Homo sapiens: one gene and its partners. The protein of the gene in region 3 purifies or fractionates together with the protein of the main gene of each other region. This does not show direct contact. Each region holds a gene or a part of one and is shown on either strand. Other genes may lie near its edges. The genes, in order: PALM, ASB7, MTRF1, MEIS1, LYPLA1, DBT and XRCC4.

Region 1 (3,500 bases), on a different chromosome or scaffold from region 3:
TTGTGTTTTTTTTTTTGAGACAGAGTTTCACTCTTGTTACCCAGGCTGGAGTGCAATGGCACGATTTCAGCAACCTCTACCTCCTGGGTTCAAGTGATTCTCCTGCCTTAGCCTCCTAAGTATCTGGGATTGCAGGCGCCCGCCACCACGCCCAGCTAATTTTGTATTTTTAGTAGAGACAGGGTTTGGCCATGTTGGTCAGGCTGGTCTCGAACTCCTGACCTCAGGTGATCCGCCCGCCTCGGCCTCCCAAAGTGCTGGGATTAGAGGCATGAGCCACCGTGCCCAGCCAAGGAAGTGGGTTTTGAAGGTTGAATAGGAGTTCTCCAGGTGCTTTTCCCTGAAGGTTGTTTGAGCATGGACTAGTGCTGTCATGGGAGACTCAGCAATACACATGCACGGCCCCTGCCTTCCTGACGGGCACACCCAGTGACGTGATGAGGGAAGAGTGCACTGAGGGAGCATCAGACACCACAGCCCTGAGACAGGAGTGTGTCCCAGAAACAGCAAGAAGACCAGGGATGCCAGGGCACAGTTCAGGGAGAGGGGCCTGTGTGCAGGGTCTGACCATGCAGGGCAGAACGGGTTCAGACAGGCGACACTAGACCCTGAGCCTCGCACAGTGGCTCCCAGGAGGCCAAGGGAGGAGGATCGCTTGAGAGCAGGAGTGGACGAGACTGGAGGGGGCACGGAGGAGCCGGCTGGATTCAGGGTGGCCTGCGGGAGCCGCTGATGCGGGGGTATGTGGGGAGGGAGGGAAGAAATGAGATGGAGCGGACGTGGTGGCTCAGCCTGTAATCCCGGCACTTTGGGAGGCCGAGGTGGGTGGATCACCTGAGGTCAGGGGATCGAAACCAGCCTGGCCAACATGGAGAAACCCCGTCTCTACTAAAAATACAAAATTAGCCAGGTGCGATGACGCAGGCCTGTAACCCCAGCTACTGGGGAGGCTGAGGCACGAGAATCGCTTGAACCCAGGAGGCGGAAGTTGCAGTGAGCCAAGATTGCCCCATTGCACTCCGGCCTGGGCGACAAGAGCGAAACTCCATCTCAATAAAAAGAAAAAAGAAAGATGACCTCTGTGTTTCTGGCCAGAGTCCCAAGAGGATAGGATGAGAAGCGGGTGCGTATGACGTCACCCACTGTGCCATGCCCTCCCCAGGCTCCTGACCCCATGGCTCCCCTTCCTCTTCCCGGGGATGCTGACGCCCCTGACCCTTCTCTCTTCTTTCTTGCAGACGCCGGTGGGCACGCCCAAAGGTAGGACCTCTGGAAGGAACTCGTGGGGCCTCGGCGCACTCTGGTGGCCAGAGAGGGGATGGCAGGGCGGGGAGTGAAGCTACAAAGTTGCTCGGTGCCTCACGCCTGTGATCCCAGCACTTTGGGAGGCCGAGGCGGGTAGATCTCCTGAGGTCAGGAGTTCGAGACCAGCCTGACCAACATGGCGAAACTCAGTGTCTACTGAAAAAATGCAAAGACAATTAGCCGGGTGTGGTGGCTCATGCCTGTAATCCCAGCACTTTGGGAGGCTGAGGCAGGAGGATCGATCGCTTGAGCCCAGGAGTTCAAGAGCATGCTGGGCAACACAGGGAGACCCTGTCTCTGCCAAACATAAAAAAATTAGCCGCCGGCCAGGCCCAGTGGCTCAGACCTGTAACCCCAGCGCTCTGGGAGGCTGAGACAGGTGGATCCCTTGAGGTCAGGAGTTCAAGACCAGCCTGGCCAACATAGTGAAACCCCGTCTCTACTAAAAATACAAAAATTAGCCGTGTGTGCTGCACGCCTGTAGTCCCAGCTGCTCGGGAGGCTGAGGTGGGAGGATCACTTGAGCCCAGGAGGTTGAGCTGTGATCGCACCACTGCACCCCAGCCTGGGCGACAGAGCGAGACCCTGTCTGTAAACTGCATTTCACGGAACGTGTCCGCTTCTGTATCGATAGCGGGACAGCCACCAGCCGGGATTGACGCTGGCGTCTGAAGTGCTTCTGGCCTGGTTTGTTGTGTGTTAATTATTCATAAGGAGAGTGTCTTCTTGTCTTACTGTAGAATTAAAAATTAATCATTAAAAAAATCCAGACAGGCCTCTCAGGGATTTTGTGAAAATCACTGGGCTGAGGATGAGGAATGAACTGTGAGGCTGCCTGTGGGATTTTCTAGGGGTTGCGGTGGGGGTCCAGGTGCCTGTGTCTGTGCGGGGCCTGTGTCTGGGGGCCCAGGTGCCTGTGTCCTGGTGTCTGGGTGGGGTCTGTGTGTCTGGGGGCCCAGGTGCCTGTGTCCTGGTGTCTGGGTGGGGTCTGTGTGTCTGGGGGCCCAGGTGCCTGTGTTTGGGTGTCTCGGTGGGGTCTGTGTGTCTGGGGGCCCAGGTGCTTGTCTGGATGTCTGGGGGCCCACAGGTGCCTGTGTCCGGGTGTCTGGGTGGGATCTGTGTGTCTGAGGGCCCAGGTGCCTGTCTGGATGTCTGGGGGCCCAGGTTCCTGTGTCCGGGTGTCTGGATGGGATCCGTGTGTCTGAGGGCCCAGGTGCCTGTCTGGATGTCTGGGGGCCCAGGTGCCTGTGTCCGGGTGTCTGGGTGGGATCTGTGTGTCTGAGGGCCCAGGTGCCTGTCTGGGTGTCTGGGGGCCCAGGTTCCTGTGTCTGGGTGTCTGGGTGGGATCCGTGTGTCTGAGGGCCCAGGTGCCTGTCTGGGTGTCTGGGGGCCCAGGTGCCTGTGTCCGGGTGTCTGGGTGGGATCCGTGTGTCTGAGGGCCCAGGTGCCTGTCTGGGTGTCTGGGGGCCCAGGTTCCTGTGTCTGGGTGTCTGGGTGGGATCCGTGTGTCTGAGGGCCCAGGTGCCTGTCTGGGTGTCTGGGGGCCCAGGTGCCTGTGTCCGGGTGTCTGGGTGGGATCTGTGTGTCTGAGGGCCCAGGTGCCTGTCTGGGTGTCTGGGGGCCCAGGTTCCTGTGTCTGGGTGGGGTCTGGGTGTCAAAGGCCCAGGTGCATGTGGGAGTCCGGATGCACTTCTGTGAAGGGGCGTTGGGCTGTCTGGGGGGTCCATGTGACCTCTCCTCTGACCCTCATCTCTCTCTCCGCTTCCACCTCCCGTGCAGACAAGCGAGTCTCCAACACGCCCCTGAGGACGGTTGACGGCTCCCCCATGATGAAGGCAGGTGGGTTGGCCCCCAGGCTCTGGGCCCCAGATCCAGCCGCTGTCAGGGACCAAGTCTCGGTCCGGGGGGCCGGGTGGGGCGGGGGCGACACCGACCTGCTCTCCGCAGCGTCTGACGGGGCCGTGGTTATGGGGGTGGCAGCTGGACCGAGGCCGAGGCTCCGAGCCTGGGGTGGGGGCCCCCTCTGCTTTGTTGCCCTGGTCCCACGCCGGCCCACGCTTCCCCGAGAAGACGGGCCCCACGCATGGCGGCTCTAACCGACGCGACCTCACGGCTTTCATTCCACCCTAATCTCACGGCTCCCTCCTGGGGCCCGCTGGGGGTGGCGCTCACGCCTGAACATGCTCGCTGCAAAT
Region 2 (3,500 bases), on a different chromosome or scaffold from region 3:
TCTTCTGAGGAGCTTAATGTGTTTTTGCAACTTAAGATGACTAGATATTAATCATTCCTATAACCACTGCTTGGTAAGCGATGCCTCATTCTTCTGAAATAAAAAAAAAACTTTGACTGTATCACAAGATTTCATAAAAATTCAATTGTGTTTCTAAATGTAATAGGGGTAGACAGTAAGAGTGAGGGAAGGAATGGAGAGAAGGACAGAGAGGAGAATTTTTTTTAAATGAACAAAGATCTGTGTTAGAACAAGGCAATTCCTGTTGGTCATAAGGATAATCTTACCTGGCTTCCATTGACTGCAAGTTGAGGAGTTAGAGGGGGAATTTTGGATCTTAGATTCCTTACCTGTGAAAATATCCTAGAATTTGTGCTTTATTGCTAAGTTGTTCACGTTTTAATTGTGGCTTTTCTGCTTCATGAGAGCCCACATGAAATGGAGCAGTGGTGCTGTGTATTTAGGGATACCACTCGTGGAAGTTAAGGATGCTAGAAATTGTTGTAAGAAAATATTTGCAGTGGGAAGTTTGGCACCACTGTCCCTGGACCACATGGCTTCCATTGTATTTGAACGTTTTTGTGTGGGTGCTTTTTTTAAAGCCTGGAAGTGTCTGGCCCACTTTGTGTAGTAACGCGTGCGTCCTAGTTGTTCCTCTGATGGGGTATCAGCTTGTGTGTACTTAGCCATCCTCTCTTGTCAAGCTTCCACGTGACCAGTTGAATGTGTGTCTCATGCTTAATGTCCACCATGAAGCTAAAATCTGTAAACAAAATGGATTTTGCTGTCTGCTGAACTTTTTAATGAGTTCCTTTTTCCTCACTGGTTTTGAGCCTTCGGTCATTATTATACAAGAGGACATATTAACATCCTGGGTACCAGCTACTAGAGGGCAAGGGCTCTACCTGACCTGCTTGTAAGTAACCCACTCTACCCCTTGGAGCGGGCCTTTGGAGTACACATTTGCTTTATGAAGAAACAAAATGTAATTTGAATTTTGCAGATTCATGGAAGAAAAGATGCAATTATTATCACTAATGTTTTCAGACTAAAGCGTAAGAAAAAATCACACTGCTTAGTCTACTTAGTGCTGGCCAGTACCAGTTTCTGTGATGTTGGAAATGGTCTCTCCTTGCTGTCCAGTATAGTAGCCACTGGTCCCATGTGGCTGCTGAGCACCTATTAATGTGACCGTTGCCACTGAGGAACTGAAATTTCAATTTTATTTAATTGCGATTTAAGTTTAAATGGCCACAAGTGCCTGGTGGTTCCTTTGTTGGTCCACACAGATCTGCCTGCCTTGGGAGAGGTATCTGGGGCTGACTGGTGGGTGTTCCATTGCAGAAAGCTTCTGAGACACACAGAAGTCGCCACAGTTGGGAGACGTGATACCCGCAGTGCTGCAGTCCTGCTTGCCTTGTTGTTGTTCTCTCAACTTCTACATTAGAGACTTAGTTATGATGAGTGTGGCCGCCCTTAGGAAGGCATGTTATATACTCACTTAAATGCCTCAGCCCCCTTTTTTAAAATACTTTGTTCAGTGGTTAATGGCATAGACTAGAGCTAGACTGCAAGAGTTTGAGCCTTAACTCTATCCCATGTTAGCTGTGACCTTGGGCAGGTCGCCTAATCTCTCTGTGCCTTAGTGTCCTCACCTTCAAATTAAGATAATACAGGCTTGTTATGAGGATTAAATGAGTTAATATTTATAATGCACTTAACACTTAAAATGTTCTTGTTCTTTGTAATTGTTTTTCAAGGTGAAGTGTGTAACTAATAAAGTGAGGGGGGATTAACAGCGAGGACTGGCTTGCCACCAACAGAGCAAATCTTTAGATTCATATTCAACTCAAGCCTCCCAGTTTCAACCCTGTATACAACTGTCCAGAGTCTGTACATGGAGGCACGCAGCCACGTGGCCGAGAGGAGCCGCTGGGCAGGACAAGCACGTGGGCGGCTGCCGTGTGTCCCTGAGCCCTCAGAGCTGCCCCTAGCAGTGCTGTTGGACAGCAGGAATGTTGAGTTAAAGACTCACATGCACTTTAAAATTTGAGCAGATAGAAATGTCAGTGGGGACTGCCTCTGTCTGTGCTTAGGTTCTCCACTGTACGAGGAGCAGAGCTGTGCGCCTAGGAGGTCCTCAGTAGTCCTGGCAGTCTGGCTGACTGCGCACAGCGAGGGGTGGGGACTGAGGAAGCACAGGCTGCTTTCCTGAGTGCAGGGTCCTCCGTCTGTTAAGGCTCCAGTTGTCCTTTGTCTTCAGGTGCCTCAACATAATTTAGTATTTCTTGACTCTCCAGTGGTGTTTCCTGCCAAAAGCAAATTTGGTGTTTCTGCTTCACCTGTGTGTTCTTTGGCTCTAAATAGGTTTTCTTTTCCTGGTGAACAATATGGGCTAGAAGGAGCAGCTGTGGCTGATGCTCTGGACTGAGCTTTCTCATGAAAAGCAGCTTGAAAGAAGGTTGGTTGGTTCAGGGAGCACTAAATCAAAGCTGAGAGCTTCTTCTAGCCCGCGTGCTGTGGGCACCGCAGCCCCAGGCATCATGCTGTTGGCTTATGATTGGAGATCGCAGACTGCCGAGGTATAAGGACAGCAGAGGGGCCACATGGTGGTCTTCATTCAGGGACATTTTACTCTTCATCACACTGTTTTGCCTAGAAACAGATTATTTAAATTGGAAGAGACCAAAAAAATTATAATACCAGAATTTAAAAACTCCTCTGGCCTTTTGGAAAAATTGCCGTAAAAACTCTGATCTATATAGTGCAAAAAAAAAAAAAAAACAGAGCGCACCCGTGGCTTGGTAATAAACTAACATCTGCTTGTGACTTGTTAGTGCTGAGTAGGGGGAGAGGCCATGAAGAGCTGCTGTTGCTGTTCCCTACAGCCAGCCCGCTGTCCAGCATTCAGACCTCAGAACCTCCCCCTTCCAGGACGTCAGGAGCGCAGCAGGGCCCATCCATGGAGGAGCCACTTCTCTGTGCCCAGGAATGATAAACACAGCTAAGAGGAGCCATAGCACCTGCCTGAATAATGAGCGCCACCTGTGGGAGGAAAGCTGCGTCCTGCTTAGTTGGCAGTGTTTATAAGAAGCCAGTTTTTGGTTTTTTACTTGTAGCCAAAAAAAAAAAAAAAAGAATGGAATGAATAAATTAAAGAGAGAACAGTGAAGGTGTGACCGATGTCAAGTAGAAATGGTAGTGACGGCTGGGCGCAGTGGCTCATGCCTGTAATCCTAGCACTTTGGGAGGCTGAGGCGGGTGGGTCACCTGAGGTCAGGAGTTTGAGGCCAGCCTGGCCAACGTGGTGAAACCCCATCTCTACTAAAAATACAAAAATTAGCCGGGCATGGTGGCACATGCCTGTAATCCCAGTTACTTGGAAGGCTGAGGCAGGAGAATCGCTTGAACCCAGGAGGCAGAGGTTGCAGTGAGCCAAGATTGTGCTACTGCACTCCGGCCTGGGTGACAAGAGTGAAACTCTCTCAAGAAAAAAAAGA
Region 3 (3,500 bases):
ATTAGGAAGCCCTTTTTCTTTCTGGTCACAGCTGAGAAACTCATTTTGAGCCTTATCTTGGGAGCCCTCAACATAGTCTTTAATTAGAGCGTCTCTGCTGAGAAGGCACAGCATGGCTGGTGTCTGCTGTCAGTTATAGCAGAAGATAATATGAAATCATTTCTCAAAGTGAAGACTTTCAAAGCCTTGCTTCATTCATTAGATGAAAGAAGCTACTGTTCAGAACTAATTATAAGCGCCAAAATCTGAAGAAAATTGAATGGAACACCCTGGACTTTGATCTGAACTTCTGCATTCTAGAAAATTAAGATAATCTGATAACAGTGCAGAAAATATACTGACAAGTAACTCCATTGTTAACATGAATTGATCACCTATTTTAGGTCTAATTAGTTCTACTTATTATAGCATTTTTGGAATACCCTGTTTGGGATACTATATGATTTTGCCAATTATTGATTTTTTTCAATGTTTTTCGGGCCTTTATTTAATTCAGTAATAGTGTACCGGGGAAAATATACACACAAATGCTGATTTTTATTCCAGCTTTTCCAGAGCCTTGTGCCAAAGGAGAAATATGACAAAAATGATGTTATTTTAGAGGTGACAGCTGGAAGGACTACTGGAGGTCAGTAAACTTACTTTATTATTTAAATGATCTAAAAAGTCCTTGAATTTTACCTTATTTGATAACACTAACTTTAAAAGTCCATTAAATGTATTTAAATTTGGAAATAGTTATTCTTTATTTCCTAAAGGACTTAGTCTTAAGGGTGGCTTTCCGAAATTTGTCCTGACTAAATATTTTTCGTATTTTGTTTTAGGTGACATCTGCCAACAATTTACCCGAGAAATATTTGACATGTACCAGAATTATTCGTGCTATAAACACTGGCAATTTGAACTTCTGAATTATACACCAGCAGATTATGGTAGGCATATTGAGGAATTTGCCTGTAGGAGATACTGAAAATTATTTTACCTCTGATCTTGATTAGAACCATATTGTCCCATTTTTTTTTGAAACTTTTGGTGTATATCTACTAAACACTGTGGCATAGGCTCATCAATCACAGTGGCTTACTATTATAGCAGAGTTGTTAGCTAGGAGAAGACAGTAGAAAGGAGGGAAGCATTTGCTTAGGGAGAAATATGTGAATTAGAGAAAATTCCCCTGAGGAACTTAGATACGTATCTTGCCTCAAAATCATTTTTCTCTATTATTGAAAGCAAAGGTATATTAAGGTTTTTACTTTAAATAACTTTATAAAATAATATAAGTATTACTAATTAGACTAAGTGGCTAATGTGTTTGATTTTTATGAGAATGCGGAAAAAGTTAATCATTTGTCTTTATTTTCAAGAAACTTCTCTTTTGGCTGATAAAAATTTATAATGGCTGGGCACTATGGTTCACGCCTGTAATCCCAGCACTCTGGGAGGCCAAGATGGGTGGATCACCTGAGGTCAGGAGTTTGAGACCAGCCTGGCCAACATGGCAAAACCCTGACTGTACTAAAAATACAAAAATTAACTGGGCATGGTGGCACGTGCCTGTAGTCCCAAATACTCGAGAGGCTGAGGCAGGAGAATCGCTTGAACCCGGGATGGGGAGGTTGCAGTGAGCCAAGATCACACCAGTACACTCCAGCCTGGGCAACAAAGTGAGACTGTCTCAAAAAAAAAAAATGATACAACATAGACAAACAGTGCAGTTCTTTACCTTTAAATACTCAAGTATATTGATTGAAAACATGATAATAATTCTCTCATTTGTCTCATTCTTTTAATCCATCTGAAAGTTTTCCTCTGCTTGGTTACACAGTGATACATTGTAGTAGACAGAGGAGTCATCAGTAATAAACCACAAACTATCAAAGTGGGGAGAGAGGATTCATGTAAGTTGAGCAGTAAAGGGAAATAAGAACCAGCCTACAGCATAAGGAAGTTGTACCTGGTACAGATTTCAGATACAACCAGTGGTCAGGAAAGGGGATTATCCATGAGAGCAGAGAGAAGAAACAACCTGAGCAGCAGCATGCTGGTGGGAGAGGTCTTGGTGTGTGGGGAAGGGAGTGGTGGGGAGGCCAGTTTACCCATAGCTTGTCAGGGAAGTAATCGCTGAAGTAGGTTTGAGTGGATAGATTTTGAACAGCTTTGATTGATGGGCAATAGGAAGCTGTTGAAAATTGCATTAATAAGAATATGATTTGATAAGATATATATTTTAAGGAGATTATTTTGACAATAGTGATGGATGGATGGATGGATGGATGGAAAGGCTAGATTTAGTGCAGACTGCAAAGAGGTTATTAGAGTAATCCAGATATGACTAAGAGTTAGAATGGGGAGTAGAATTATCTGTCAGAGACCTGCAAAGGATGAATAGGCATAATTTGCTAAGTAACTAGATGTGAGAGGGGCTGTTGTTTATCCAGTATGTCTTGTGTGCACAACTTCACACCCTTGTGAAATAGATATTACTAATCTCATTTTACAGATGAGGATCTAGGCTCAGAGAGTAAGTAACTAATCCAAGACCACACAATAAGTAATGGCAATCCTGGGATTACATTTTAGTCTGTTTGATCCAGAGCTGCACTATATCCCATTATTCTATTCTGACACAAAGGAGATGAGCCACAGGGAGTCTAATCTTTCTAGCTGAGAAGACTGTGATACTCATTCATGCCATTGAATGGAATAGAAGTTGGAAGGCAGAAACCATTTGGAAAGAATAATGATGAATGGTTTTTGAATCATTAAGTTTGAGGTTATAGTGAGCATCCACTTAGAAATAGTCAGTAAATAGGCTGGGCACAGTGGCTCACGCCTATAATCCCAGCACTTCGGGAGACAGTTCGAGACCAGCCTGACCAACATGGTAAAACCCCGTCTGTACTAACAATACAAAAATTAGCTGGGTGTGGTGGTGCACACCTGTAATCTCAGCTACTCGGGAGGCTGAGGCACGAGAATCATTTGAACCCAGGAGGCACGGGTTGCAGTGAGTCGAGATCACACCACTGCACTCAGCCTGGGCGATAGAGTAAGACTCAGTCTCAAAAAAAAAAAAAAATTTGGAGTAAATATTGAAATTGAGTAACCAGATCTTTGGTGAGACAACAGAACTCAGGCAAGCTATTTGATACCTGTCAGCTCAGAGATAATGTCTGATACTGAGAGAATAAGTGAGGGAGAGTCTATAGAGAGAGAGCATTCAGGGCAACAAGCTTTGGAGAATGGCCATGTTTAGAAGGATAGACCAGTTAGCAAAATAAAAAGAGGATTCAAGATAATCAGAAAAAGGATGAGGACAGTAAAATATTATGGAAGCAAAAGAGGAGAGAGTTTCAAGGAGAATGTAAGAAGAAACAGCAGCATTATGAAAAGGAGAGTAGTAGAAAATATCCTGAGTGAACTCTGATAGGTGTATTTCGAATGAGACTTTCAAGAATAAAAGGGAGATAACCTCAATAACAGGAAGAGAGATTCTGTTC
Region 4 (3,500 bases), on a different chromosome or scaffold from region 3:
GTAAGAAGTTGCAGGTAGACCTACTAATGTGGTCAAACAGCTCAGAAAAGGTGATTAGTTTTTCTCAGGTTTTCAGTGTTTTTGTTTATGTTTTATTTTTTAATTAAAGGTTTCCCCCTTTGATATCTACACATTCTAGGGGTAGCTGACATCTGTGTTCTTAATAACAACAAACAGTTCTTGCCACCAAAAAGAAGCAAATAACATCTAGTACCTGTGGGCAGTTGGCTAAGAGGCTGTGGTATTTTTTGTGTGTATTTGCTTTCTACCTGGGGATCAGAGCAGGCCTGGAATAAATGTCGTTGGTGTTGTCCACTGCAAGGCTTCAGGAGGACATAGACAAAGATCAGCCTACTGAGCAGAGAGTGGTCCAGGTATTGAATGGACTCAATATCCTAGAAGGACTCACATTCTAGCAGGCACTTTTTAAGAATCACTAATGTTTAACCTAAGGATTAGAGGGGAGAAGGCTATAAAGCATAATGGCTATGTTTAACTATTTGAAGGGCTATCCTGTGGAAGTAAAATTAGAATTGCTTACAGTACCCCAAGGAGTTGTGCTGATAAAACTATTAGGTTGGGTGCAAAAGTAATTGTTTTTTTTTTTTTTAATTATACTTTAAGTTCTAGGGTACATGTGCACAACGTGCAGGTTTGTTACATATGTATACATGTGCCATGTTGGTGTGCTGCCCCCATTAACTCGTCATTTACATTAGGTATATCTCCTAATGCTATCCCTTCCCCCTCCCCCTGTAATTGTTGTTTTTGCCACTGAAAGTAATGGCAAGACCGCAATTACTTTTGCACCAACATAAATATTTTTGATCTAGTAAGGCAGAACCTTCTAACAGCCTTGTTTATAGATGGGGTGGCCTCTTAAGTAAGGTGGTGAGTGCTGTATTAGTTCAGCAGAGGTTACCTATGTACTTTTGGGGGACAGATATCATATAGGGGATTCATGTCAGTGACCAAACGAAGTGACCATTACAGCCCTTTTGAAACCTGAGGTGTAATTTTTAAAAATGAACTCACGACTTTAATAGTCATAGACTCAAACCTGAGTTGATTATTATGAATTAGTTTATGGGAGTCTCAATATGTGAATATGATGGAGACAAGTTTTGGAATACAGATAAATCAAGTCACTGTATTCACTCTCTCTCTCTCTCTTTGAATAGCCTTATCTTTGCCTATACACACAAACAGTGCAGCCATCAAAATTTTCAATTTACAAAATGTTCACAGTCATGCTTCTTCCTTGACTAAACACTGGGGTTGCTGCCAGTGGTAATTGGCTTGAAACCAGCTAATTTTTATATATCTATTTAGTCTGGATATTCTAGATGAGTGGCACTATAGTTGCGGTGCTCTAGTCACTGTGCCAGAGCACCAGGGAGGAGGGTGCTTGCTACCACTGACAGCTGTGTGTCATTTAGCAAATTATTAACATCTCTTTGGTAACATGTGACCTCAAAGAAGTCACCTAATTTCTCTGAGCCCAGGCTTCTCATCTGTTAAAAATGTCTCTTCCTATTTTTAGGTAAGTAGTATAAGTCACATCCATAAAAGATTATGTTTTTAAAAAGTCTGGAAAAAGAAAGTTAATAGACAGAATTCCTTCCCTCTAAGAGTCTGCAGATAATGAACAGTACCATAGATAAAGAGATGTTTTTGCTCTCTTACCTACATTAGTTACTATGAAAATTACTTTTGGTATATGCAGAATATTAATATTAAATAATTTTCTAATTGGTCATGCAGTGAAGGCAGCTAATGAAAAAACAGATTTTTTTTCATTTTAATTGGTTATTTCACATGGTGTTTGTGCTACACCTGTGCTTATAATGAGAATGGAGAATTAATCTAACCTTCTGCTCACATGATTCCAGTTTTCATGGTTTATACAAGATAATGATAACCTGATTTGCAACACAATTTGTTGTAGACCTGTGTTTTAAATATTTTTATTAGCAGTTCAGGGACTTCATATACAAGAACTGATATAATATGTATTGCCAACAAGAATTAGCACAAACAGTATACCTTTTAGTTAGATTCTAGTTTCATTATTTGTTTCAATTACTTCTCAGATAATGAAAGAACACAAGGATACAGGATATTGAGAATCTTAAAATGTTATGAAGTATGCATTTTTGTTTTGAAAACCTGTCCCTGTCTGTTTAATGGTTTGGTTTTTAGGAACTATTTTCCTTCCTGAAGTGGGCAGATTTACAAACTAGAATTCATACTGGACTATGGATCCTTTAATCATTAATAGAGCCTTATTAAACTTTTCATTGTATTTTTTATGTCCTGCTCAGATTTGATCTGAGTTGGGAACTAAAAGGAATTTACTATTTCAGAATCTAATATGTCCTCTTCATTTTCTGGATTTGATACGTAATTTTTAATATTATGCAGAACAAACGGATCTTAAGAGAATCTCATGCGTATGACTCTGGAGAGCGTATATTAATACTTTTTTACATGTCAGTGACTTGTCACTTTTGGAGAGGCTACAAAAATAATTGTACAAAACTATCTTATTAAGGCACTTAAAGTAACTTAAGTGCCTTAATAAGATGTTTATAAATTTTCAGTACTAGCTGGAGAAAGCAAAACTATAAGTTCAATTACTGTATATCTGTGACCTTGCCTTGACCTCAGACTTTACATAAAGAGCAAAAAAAAAAAAAACAACAACAACAAAAAAAGCCACCCCAAGAAATCTCTACAAGGAATGCATTTCTCTGAAGTCCTAAGCAGTGTGAGTTAGTGGTGATAAACTCCAGACATTCTCTCATTTGATGGTGTGCTGCCATCCCAGTTCATTATCTTAATAGTGGGCATTAAAATAGAATTAGGTTTGCAAGAGGTAGGGGTGGTTTTGATAAAAATTGTACAAAAGAAGTCAGAGAACATAAGATTGAAATGTCACTAATTAGGAGAGGTAACAGATGCCCTTATGAGCATCTAACTCTTTACACCAATTTTCTCTCTTTGCAAATGAAAGGAGTGGTGGCTAGTATTGTTTCCTGAAAACTCTGCTAATTCCCCCATGAAAAGATGAAATGGAAGTGTCCAACTGTGGTAAAACAGGCAAACATAAATCAACTCAGAAACCCCAAGCCTGTGTACTCAAAGGTCACTGGGGGTTACAGGTTTTCCAGCACGTGAGGCTGCACATAGAGCAATGGAGAGAACTGAAGGAGTCCCATTTTGCCAAGATCTAGTTTTACTCCAACTGCGATTCATCTTTTCCTCTTCCTCAACCCCCCCTTTTATTTTTAAGGAATAACGATTTGTTTCACTTTCTTGGTTACAGGTTTATTAATGCCCGGAGAAGAATAGTGCAGCCCATGATAGACCAGTCCAACCGAGCAGGCAAGTCCCCCATAGTGACTGTATTCAAGTCACGCAAGCGAAAACCATCCTCAAGCCATTCACCGGGAGGTCCGCTACCTGGTAAATAAACTGGGAGTGAGTATAGGAACGCC
Region 5 (3,500 bases), on a different chromosome or scaffold from region 3:
ATGTTATAATATCAAGGTATCTCCCCACAAAATATTTTTTAATATTTTAATTACATATTCAATATTTTAAATATTTCATATGTTATATTTATTATTTTAATGTGGAGAAACCTGGCAGACACCATCTTAACCAAGTGATAAAACACATCAGTAACAACAAAATCATCATGAGGTCTGCCTAATATGATGCACTGTTATGGACACAGCAATACCCCTATAGTGTTACTGTCAAAAAGGTATAAATCACAAAACATCAGATAAACCCAAACTGAGGGACATTCTACAAAGTAACTGGCTTACACTTTTTTTTTTTTTTTTTGGTAGACACAGGGTCTGGCTGTTGCCCAGGCTGGTCTCAAACAGCTGGGCTCAAGCGATTCTCATGCTCAGCTTCCCAAAGCACTGGTATTACCATACCCGGCCTGTATTCTTGACAAAGTGTCAAGGTCATGAAAGACAAGGACTGTTTCAGAATAAAGAAAACTAAAGAGAAATGATAAGTAGAGGCAATATGTGATCCTAGACTGATAAAGGACATTATTGGCTCAAATCAATGAAATGTGAATGGAGCTGGTGGATTAGACCGTAGTATACCATCAGTGTTAACTTCTTAATGATGGTTATACTGGAGTGTCCTGGTACTTAAAAATGTACACTGAAGAATTAAGCTGTAATGAGGCAACACGCCTGCAACTTATTCTTTAATAGTTCAGAAATATTAACAATTGGGTAATTTGGGTGAAAGGTATAAGGAGCTATAAATGTTATTTCTGCAACTTTTATGTAAATTTCAAGTTATTTAAAATGAAAAGTTAAAAAGTTTAAAACATAACAGAATAGAACATAACCTATTAAATAAATCTGAGTCCAGGCATGACACAGTGGTTCATGCCTGTAATTCCAGGGAGGGACTGGGAGGCCGAAGTGGGCAAATCACTTGAGGTCAGGAGTTCGAGACCAGCTTGGCCAACATGGCAAAACCCCGTCTCTACTAAAACTACAAAAATCTGACTGGACACTATGGCTCACGCCTGTAATCCCAGCACTTTGGGAGGCTGAGGAGGGCAGATTACGAGGTCAGGAGTTTGAGATCAGCCTGACCAACATGGTGAAACCCCCCCGTCTCTACTAAAAATACAAAAAAAATTAGCCAGGCGTGGTGGCACGTGCCTGTAATCCCAGCTACTCATGAGGCTGAGGCAGGAGACTCACTTGAACTCAGGAGGCAGAGGTTGCAGTGAGCCAAGATCACGCCACTACACTCCAGCCTGGACGACAGGGCGAGACAAGGTCTCAAAAAAAAAAAAAAAAATTAGCCGGGTGTGGCGGCACGCACCTATAGTCCCAGCTACTTGGGAGGCTGAGGCAGCAGAACTGCTTGAACCTGGGAGGTGGAGGTTCAGTGAGCCGAGATTGCACCACTGCACTCCAGCCTGGCTGGGTGACAGAGCGAGATTCTGTCTCAAAAAATAAACAAATAAATAAATAAATAGAAAATAAATCTGAGTCCATACTAACTAAATGGGGAGTAGCAGATTAATAAACAAAATGGAATGACAAAAAAAAAGGAATGACAGAATTGGAAAATCACACTGTAGAAATGATTGACTCAAGCAATTATCAATGGATGATAAAAATATTGGGTGAAAGCTTGATGAACAACTTGCATAGTCACAAAGTATCCCCCCGCAACTTGCTTTTTAATTACAAAAGGAAAGTAACTGCAGTCGAGACCTGGAAGATACCACCTTAATCAAAAGATCGAAGTTACAACAATAAAAGGACTCAGCATCATTAGTCTACTGATGCGCGCAATGAATAGGACATATTGTTTACATGGTATTTATACCAGAAATGCATAAACTGAATCTAATCATGAGTAAATACACAAACCCAAATTAAAGGACTAGCCTGTTCTCTGCAGAAGTGTCAATGTCGTGAAAGACAAAAGAAAATCTAGGGAATTGTTCCAGATTAAAAGAGACAAAAGAGACTAAAGAGACGTGATAACTAAATATAATGTATGACTAGGGAGGAGATAGCTATAAAGGATATTAATGGAACAATCTGGCAAAGGTTGAATGCATAATATATTAGATAATACTAAATGTTAAATTTAATGGGATAACTTTTCTGTGATTATATAATGTTTAAAATACCCTAGTCCTTCTCACCCACAGTTTTGTTTTCCATGGTTTCAGCTGCCCACAGTCAACTGTGGTTCGAAAATATTACATGGAAAATTCCAGAAATAAACAGTGGGGGATGCTCTAAAACCCCTAGTGGATGCCTGAATCCATGGATAACACCAAACCCTATATATACTATGTTTTTTCCTATACATAATGCTTGTGATAAAGTTTATTGTGTAAATTAGACATAGGAAGAGATTAACAATAATAAAACAATTATAACAATATGACAACATCACTTCTCTTGCACTTTGGGGCCATCATTAAGCAATGTAAGGCTTATTTGGATAAAAGCACTACAGGCTGGGCGAGGTGGCTCATGCCTGTATTCCCAGCACTTTGGGAGGCCAAGGCGGGCAGATCGCTTGAGGTCAAGAGTTCCAGACTGGCCTGGCCAACATGATGAAACCCCGTCTCTACTAAAAATACAAAAATTAGCCGGGTGTGGTGGTGCACGCCTGTAGTCCCAGCTACTCAGGAGGCTGAGGCAGGAGAGTTGCTTGAACCTGGAGAGTGGAGGTTGCAGTGAGCCATGATTGTGTCACTGCATTCCAGCCTGGGTGACAGAGCAAGACTCTGTCTCAAAAAAAAAAGCAAAACAATACCAAAACAGTTGACCTGATAACCCAGATGGCTACCAAGTGACTAACAGATGGTGAATGGATATAGCATGGATACGCTAGGTAAAGGAATGATTCGTGTCCTGGGTGAGACGGAATGAGATTTCATCACAATACTCAGAATGGTGTACAATTCAGGCCAGGCATGGTGGCTCATGCCTGTAATCCCAGCACTGCGGGAGGCCGAGGTGGGTGGATCACTAGAGGTCAGGAGTTCAAGACCACCCTGGCCAACATGGCAAAACCCCATCTCTACTAAAAATACAAAAAAATTAGCTGGACGTGGTAGCACGCGCCTGTAATCTCAGCTACGCCGGAGGCCGAGGCACAAGAATCACTTGAACCCGAGTGGCAGAGGTTGAAGGGAGCCGAGATCGTGCCACTGCACTCCAGCCTGGGTGACAGAGTGAGACTCCATCTCAAAAAATAATAATAAAATAAATAAAAAAGAATGGTGTACAATTTTAAACTTATAAAGTATTTCTGGAATTTTTCATTTAGTATTTTCAAACCACAGTTAACCACGGGTAACTGAAACCATGGGAAGCAAAACTGCAGGTAAGGGGAGACTACAATATCTTAAGTATTAAATTGCCACTTGTCAGGCTGACAGGTTCGAAGTTTCATCATGCACTCATGGAACCAATCTAGAGTCAGCCTTTCCTTAGCATTATCCCACCAAATAATT
Region 6 (3,500 bases), on a different chromosome or scaffold from region 3:
TTATTTATAAACTCCTGGAATGATTAACTTCCAGAAGAGTGGCTTTGCAGGAAAGCTGTTAGGGAAATACATGGCTTGCATTCTTTTGAATTTTTTATATAACACAGCATTTAAAGCAGTTACCTGCTATGTTATTGCATTTGCCACTGAGTGTCATGATGCAGTCAGTGTTCCAGCTTTGAAATTAGTGACTTTCAGTGTAATGTAATGAAGAGAGTAGTAAGAGGAAGGGTTTAACTGAGAGAGTAAAAGACATTAGAGAACCTTCCATTTTAGTTTCTTTAAAAAAAAAAAAAAGGATGAAGAGATTTGAGAATTTAAATAAATGAATAACAATTTAATGCTTTTCAGGCTTTCAAAAAGCAATGGTCAAGACTATGTCTGCAGCCCTGAAGATACCTCATTTTGGTTATTGTGATGAGATTGACCTTACTGAACTGGTTAAGCTCCGAGAAGAATTAAAACCCATTGCATTTGCTCGTGGAATTAAACTCTCCTTTATGCCTTTCTTCTTAAAGGTGAGATTCATTCATTTCAAACAAGGCTTGAGTAGGACATTTATTTGTTTGTTTGTCTTTTTGAGACAGAGTTTTGCTCTTGTCACCCAGGCTGGAGTGCAATGGCACAATCTCGGCTCACTGCAACCTCCACCTTCCGGGTTTAAACAATTCTCTTGCCTTAGCCTCCTGAGTAGCTGGGAATACAGGCACCTGCCACCACGCCTGGCTAATTTTGTATTTTTAGTAGACACGTGGTTTCGCCATGTTGGTCAGGCTGGTCTTGAACTCCTGACCTCAGGTGATCCACCCCCGCCCCAGCCTCCCAAAGTGCTGGAATTCCAGGCGTGAGCCACCATACCTGGCCCCAAGTAGGACATTTAAATTTTGCTTTGCCAACATGCAATATGTTGACTGTGGCCTTGAATAAAAATATTACTTTTCGCAACATCAGATAGTTAGAAAATGTGCCATTTCTTTGTTCAATAGGAAATTATAAAATTGAGATTTCTGTACTATATTTTTAGCTGCTTATCTTTGAGCTAGGTAGAGACAATTCTGCCAGTTAAGTAAAGCCTCTGATCCTAAAAGGATCACTCCAACCAAGTCTTGGTTTGAACTAAAATGAGACTTGATATTAATTTTGCAATATCACTGACATATATTTAATATTTATTTTCATTTACTCAACCAACTTATATTGAGGATCCTGGGAATCATTTCTAGTGCTAAGCCTTGGGACCAGTATAAAATGGAGTAAGACCATCAGCTAACCTTGAGCAGCATACAGTCTAGCTCACATTAGTGACTGTGCAGCAGCTACCATGTGCCAGCCTCCATAGTAAGCATGCTGTATACATTATCTCTCTCTTTTTTTTTTTTTTTTTTGGTATGAATCTCATTTATTGAAAAGATTATTTCTCACCTTTCTCAAATTGAAGACTGCAAAAAATAAAAGCAGTGCTTCATTGAGTTGTCATGAGCCTGGGGCAGGAGCAGCAGCGCTGCCTCTCCACGCTCCGGGAAACCGCAGCTGGCGTGTGCCACATCGGTCCCACCTCGCTTTACAAAACAGTCCTGAAGCTTAATCAAATAAAACTATTGAACACAACATTTACATTAGAAAAAGAGAGCTGGGTGTAGGAAAGGCCGAGCCTGGTGTTCCCTTTAAGCGAAGGTGGCTCCACAGTTGGGGCATCTTCGCTCCCTCAAGGCAAAACAGCAAATGAACCCAAAGGGGAACAGGATGATGGCCAGGAAGATGCCCAGGAAGGTGAAGCAGTCCTGCAGCCCCCCGACCCTGCAGACGGGACAGCCTCCCACGACCACGATAGAGTTGGTAGGATAGCGGATGACGGTCCAGCTGTGGATGTTGTAGACCCTGGGATGGTGGGTGGGTGTCCGTGTGACGAGGTAGGAGTAGGGCGGCTGCGGGGGCGCGGCGGGGATGGCGCCGTAGCCGTGCGGGCCTCACGCGTAGTCGCCCTGGCCGGCCTCCAGGTTGTAGGCGGGCGGCCGCTCCTGCAGCAGAGTCTTGTGGTCCATGGCGGCCCGGCTCGGCTCTGTCGGCCCCGGCGGGGACGCGGCGCACGCCCCGGGTGGCTCGGGCCCCTCTGAGGCAGACGCGGGGCAGGGCCCATTATCTCTTAATTCTCAGAGTAACCCTGACATGTAAATATTACTGTCTCCACTTTCCATTTAAGGAAATTGGGGCTCAGAGAGGTTGAGAAACTTGTTAAGGACTTACAGCTAACAGGTGGAGAAGCTCTTTCAGGTTCTGGTCTGTTTTACTCAGAAGGACATACTGATGTCTGTAATGCCAACATGTCCAGTCCTTTCTCTACACTGCACCAAGACTGGTCTTCCGTAAATCAAATTACTGTAATATTCTCTGATTCTTTTCAGTGGTTCCCTTTCATTACCTTCAGGATAATTTGTATGCCATACTCCTTAGTGTGGCATACAAATGTGTTATAAGTCTCTGCTGCCTGCCTCTCCATTCTTACCTCACTCCCTCATATTAAGGTACCCATAATTGCTGGAATACACAATTCCACCTGAAGTGCCCGTTCTTCTCGATCAAACACCTGCAAATCCCAAACTGTGGTCAGGTACAGACTCCTTCTGTGGCTGTCACTATTTGAATTAAATACTTTTGTTTCCCACTGTTAACTTATCTCAGTGCATTGAGTGCTTACTCAGTTTTCTCTTCACTTACTCACTTACTGGGCGCTGAGCCTCATGAGGCAGAAACTATTCTTCTTTATCTCCCTTTTTCTTTCTTTCTTCTTTTTTTTTTTAGAAAGGGTTCACTTTGTTGCCCAGGCTGCTGGAGTGCAGTGGCACAATCACAGCTCACTGCAACCTTGAACTCCTGGGTTCAAGTGATCCTCTGCCTCAGCCTCCCGAGAAGCTGGAACCACAGGTGTGCACCACCACACCTGGCTAATTTTTTTTTATTCTTAGTAGAGATGTGTCTCGCAGTGCTGCCCAGGCTGGTCTTACAGGGATGAGCCAGCATGCCTGGCTATTTTGTTTTAAAATAAAACATAAGTTTCAGAACATTCGAAAAAATACTACACAGTATTGTAGAGGGGGAACAAATGACCTAATCCATTGACACATACCTTGTATTTTCTTGGACAAAATTTGGATTATACTCAAATATTTTTATATGTAACAGTTTAGACTAACCTTAGGGGTTTTTAGATAAAGACTATTAAAATTACAGTTATTGAATCAAATGCTTACTAAAACTTTCAAGTTGGCTGGGCGCAGTGTCTCACGACTGTAATCCCAACACTTTAGGAGGCCAAGGCAGGCAGATTGCTTGAGCTCAGGAGTTCAAGACCAGCCTGGGCAACATGGTGAAACCCCATCTCTACAAAAAATACAAAAGTTACCTGGGCATGGTGGCACACGCCTATAGTTCCAGCTACTCGGGAGGCTGAGGCAGGAGGGTCACTCGAGCCAAGGACGTTGAGGCTACAGTGAGCTGAGATC
Region 7 (3,500 bases), on a different chromosome or scaffold from region 3:
TGTGTGTGGTGCTCGCTTATAAGAATATAACTGGATAAGTCGTGTTCTTGTTGTGGAGCAGTTTGTTGTCTAGTAGATAAATCAGACAAATTAGCTATGTTGCCTTATCACAAAATAAGATTGTAGTTGCTTTTATAGTAATATTAACATAGTACTGAGGAAACAGGCTACATTTACTCTTGTTTGAAATTTATCCCATAAAAACATTCTTTTGTAAATAAACCATATGTATCAATAAATTATCTTTAGGCATTTTGATTTTCTAAAGGCTTATTTGTATCAGTTTTCAATTTTGATCCTTATCTCAGTAAATAAATTACATTAATAACCAATAATTTCTAATTGTGTATTTAACCATCTTTATAAAACTTCCAAGTCAGTGAAAGCATATGTGAAAATAATCTTTAATTGTATTTTCCTTGAAATCTTCTTGATTATTAGGCTGAATTATGTTAATGCTAAGCAGAACTGCATGACTAATTTGTTTACTTATTTACTTTTTTAGATTTGAAAAATGTGTGAGTGCTAAGGAAGCTTTGGAGACTGATCTTTATAAGCGGTTTATTCTGGTGTTGAATGAGAAGAAAACAAAAATCAGAAGTTTGCATAATAAATTATTAAATGCAGCTCAAGAACGAGAAAAGGACATCAAACAAGAAGGGTATTTTCGCTATCTTGTTTTTGGATGACAGATGAATACATTTAAGTGGAATTTCTTCCCAAAGTTAATGAACATTAGATGCCAACTTTTTGATCATATGAGATAATTTGGTAGTCTGGATGTGGATGTTCAGGCTGTTAGATAGGGGTACCATGGGCTAGAGAGTTCTCAGCATGGTCTCTCTATGTCTGCTCAACTGTGTCACCTACACTTAAATTAAAAAACTGACATGAGGCTTATTAAAGTATTATTTAATTCTTAGACATTAGTAAGACATACTAATTTAAAAAAAAACTTTCATCTGCAGAACTACAAAAGTTGGATGCATATTTGTAATCTTGATGTCTAGGCAATGATTAACTTTAGAATCAAGTGGTTAATATTAAATTCCAGGGAGCACTTATTTTATCTGATTAGAGTGTGATTATCAGTTTTATTCTTCTTTCACATATTCTCTGAAAGTACATATGTACTTGATTTTTATGGAAGAATCCTAAGTGACAAATGGCTGATACGGCTTTCGACGATTATAACTTTTTTACGCATTAGCAAATACAAGTTAGGGTCTGTTGCTTTGAATCTTAGTAGAAGTACAGAATTACCAGTGACGTAGTATAAAAAAATTTGATATCAGCTAGTCCTAGCACAGGTACTGGTCTTGCAGTCATACCTATTAGTTTATAGCTTTGGACAAGTCACTTTATCTTCATAATAAAGGTAAAGATACCCATCTTAGGGTTTTGCAGAGATCAAATGAAATGCGAACTGTTCTGAGATTAGTAAAATGTTAAATACTCTGTGACTCACAGAGATAATTTGTTAGAAAAAGTATTTTGATGGAAGAATAGTACCTGATAAGAAACTGATTTAATATTAATTATAATAAGTACTAAATTCAGATTAAAATTAGGTAAAAGAGAAACTTGTTCTTAAGAGAGTTAATATATAGGTTTTAAGATGCTTTCATCTAAATCATATATATTTTCAATATGTTTGTCTAATTAGAATCTTTTTCTAGGAATATTTTCTATAATTGCTTACTGATAAATCTGCTGCCTAGCAGGGGGTGAGCCAGTTATTTATAATTCTACCTTTCTCTGTTTCTAGGGAAACTGCAATCTGTTCTGAAATGACTGCTGACCGAGATCCAGTCTATGATGAGAGTACTGATGAGGAAAGTGAAAACCAAACTGATCTCTCTGGGTTGGCTTCAGGTAAGAGATACATACATTTATCTCCTCTGTTGAATATCTTATTTGGGCTTCTTATTCTAATGACAAGAAACCATAATGGAAAAATGTTGTGAAAGACCTTATTCTATGAAAATTCTTTAGCATTTTTATTTTAAAAACTCAAATTTTTAATGTTAAAACTTAATATTATTTGTAAAATGCAGCAACTCATTAGCACAGCAGTGTGAGCAAGCATTCATACACATATACTCCAAGGTATACTATTCCTGGTTAAATATAACCAGGAAAAGCATAAGCAATGAGGAAGAAACACCTTTATGCTAAATATCATCAGCTTAAAGCTGGTTGCCTTTAACATTTGAGATCTTATTTAGCTAAAGCCATGAATAGGCCACTGGAGCAGAGTAATCAAGAATGCTCTAAATTATACTGAAGTTGAGGCCTTCTTTCACTCTTCAGAAAAAAGATTGCAACAAGTGAGATGTAATAGAGGAAAAGAGAAGGGGAAAAATGGCAGTTTAGTACAAAGTACCTATGACTTACTCAGTCCTTTGGATCAAGTTCCCAGCAAGTGTTTAAACCCATGAGTTATTTTTTAAAATGTTTTATAGATTTCCTAGTGACGGTGGAAACAGGAGCCTCTGAACTCATTTTATACTTAGATGGTTTTGACCTAAAACCAATACTATTAAAATAAATGCTTGATTTATTTATTTAGAAAATATTTTTGAGTTCCTATTATGTACTAGAAACTTTGCTATGCATTAGACAGCAAAACACAAAAATCTGTGCCATTGTGGAGTTTAAATTGTAGTCAGGGAAACATATAAGATGAATAAATATAAAATATGTTAGGTTGATAAGTGCTAAAGAGAAAAATAAACCAGAGAAGGCGTTAGAAAGGTCAGGGTGAGAATAAGGATGAGGGTTATGATTTTAGCCAGACTATCAGAAAAGGCCTCAGTGAGAAGGTGAAGGTGACATGCTGTCTTGGGGAAGACCATGCCAAACAGAAAACAAAAACAAAAACAAAAACAAAAAAACACTAAGTACAAAGTTCCTGACGCGTTTAAGCAATACTATAGAGTGTAATCTGGATAAAGTAGAAAGATGAAGACTGGGAGAATTAGGAAATGAGATGAGAGAGATGATGGGACCTCATCACGTGTAGGGCGATATAGGCTACCATTAGAACTTCTCCTGTTACTTTGAATTAACTTGGAAACTACTGAAGGATTTTAAACAGTCAGGTGACATAATCTGACTCAAATTTCAAGAGGATTAGTCTGTGTATTGTGTTAAGAATAGACTATAGGATGACAAATGCAGAAGAAGATATAACAGATGGGAAGCTAGTACAACAATTCGGTGAAGGATGAGGCTGGCTTAGACCAGAGTGATGGAGAGGCGATGAGCAAGGAGCAGATTCTAGGTGTGCTTAGAGGCAGCAGGATTTGCTGATGAAGGGGTTATGACTGAGCAAATAAGACTGAGAAGGAGCAGCCAGGAGGTAAGAGGCAAAAATATAAATGTGGTATCCTGCTGATTGATGGATTTAGCAATACAAACGTTATTAAGGATCTTAATAGAACATATTCACTGGATTGGTGAAGGAAGGGGATAGGAGAGAATAGGAGTTTCAAAGG

Evidence for each region.
Region 1: the proteins of MTRF1 (region 3) and PALM purify together in Homo sapiens (affinity purification with mass spectrometry; one large-scale study listed by BioGRID and IntAct). This does not show direct contact.
Region 2: the proteins of MTRF1 (region 3) and ASB7 purify together in Homo sapiens (affinity purification with mass spectrometry; one large-scale study listed by BioGRID and IntAct). This does not show direct contact.
Region 4: the proteins of MTRF1 (region 3) and MEIS1 purify together in Homo sapiens (affinity purification with mass spectrometry; one large-scale study listed by BioGRID and IntAct). This does not show direct contact.
Region 5: the proteins of MTRF1 (region 3) and LYPLA1 purify together in Homo sapiens (affinity purification with mass spectrometry; one large-scale study listed by BioGRID and IntAct). This does not show direct contact.
Region 6: the proteins of MTRF1 (region 3) and DBT purify together in Homo sapiens (affinity purification with mass spectrometry; one large-scale study listed by BioGRID and IntAct). This does not show direct contact.
Region 7: the proteins of MTRF1 (region 3) and XRCC4 purify together in Homo sapiens (affinity purification with mass spectrometry; one large-scale study listed by BioGRID and IntAct). This does not show direct contact.

Annotation. Positions count from the first base shown.
Region 1 is NC_000019.10:732,935-736,434, forward strand, and holds part of PALM (paralemmin-1), read left to right. Parts: intron 1-1,238; coding exon 1,239-1,260; intron 1,261-3,084; coding exon 3,085-3,144; intron 3,145-3,500. UniProt on the Homo sapiens protein: Involved in plasma membrane dynamics and cell process formation. Isoform 1 and isoform 2 are necessary for axonal and dendritic filopodia induction, for dendritic spine maturation and synapse formation in a palmitoylation-dependent manner.
Region 2 is NC_000015.10:100,630,089-100,633,588, forward strand, and holds part of ASB7 (ankyrin repeat and SOCS box protein 7), read left to right. Parts: exon of another isoform or gene 1-121; intron 122-3,500. UniProt on the Homo sapiens protein: Probable substrate-recognition component of a SCF-like ECS (Elongin-Cullin-SOCS-box protein) E3 ubiquitin-protein ligase complex which mediates the ubiquitination and subsequent proteasomal degradation of target proteins.
Region 3 is NC_000013.11:41,250,077-41,253,576, reverse strand, and holds part of MTRF1 (peptide chain release factor 1, mitochondrial), read left to right. Parts: intron 1-546; coding exon 547-628; intron 629-824; coding exon 825-932; intron 933-3,500. UniProt on the Homo sapiens protein: Mitochondrial peptide chain release factor that directs the termination of translation in response to the peptide chain non-canonical stop codons AGG and AGA.
Region 4 is NC_000002.12:66,564,125-66,567,624, forward strand, and holds part of MEIS1 (homeobox protein Meis1), read left to right. Parts: intron 1-3,328; coding exon 3,329-3,387; intron 3,388-3,500. UniProt on the Homo sapiens protein: Acts as a transcriptional regulator of PAX6. Acts as a transcriptional activator of PF4 in complex with PBX1 or PBX2. Required for hematopoiesis, megakaryocyte lineage development and vascular patterning.
Region 5 is NC_000008.11:54,095,448-54,098,947, forward strand, and holds part of LYPLA1 (acyl-protein thioesterase 1), read right to left. Parts: intron 1-3,500. UniProt on the Homo sapiens protein: Acts as an acyl-protein thioesterase. Hydrolyzes fatty acids from S-acylated cysteine residues in proteins such as trimeric G alpha proteins or HRAS.
Region 6 is NC_000001.11:100,211,835-100,215,334, reverse strand, and holds part of DBT (lipoamide acyltransferase component of branched-chain alpha-keto acid dehydrogenase complex, mitochondrial isoform 1 precursor), read left to right. Parts: intron 1-351; coding exon 352-518; intron 519-1,384; exon of another isoform or gene 1,385-2,112; intron 2,113-3,500. UniProt on the Homo sapiens protein: The branched-chain alpha-keto dehydrogenase complex catalyzes the overall conversion of alpha-keto acids to acyl-CoA and CO(2).
Region 7 is NC_000005.10:83,203,047-83,206,546, forward strand, and holds part of XRCC4 (DNA repair protein XRCC4), read left to right. Parts: intron 1-505; coding exon 506-661; intron 662-1,768; coding exon 1,769-1,875; intron 1,876-3,500.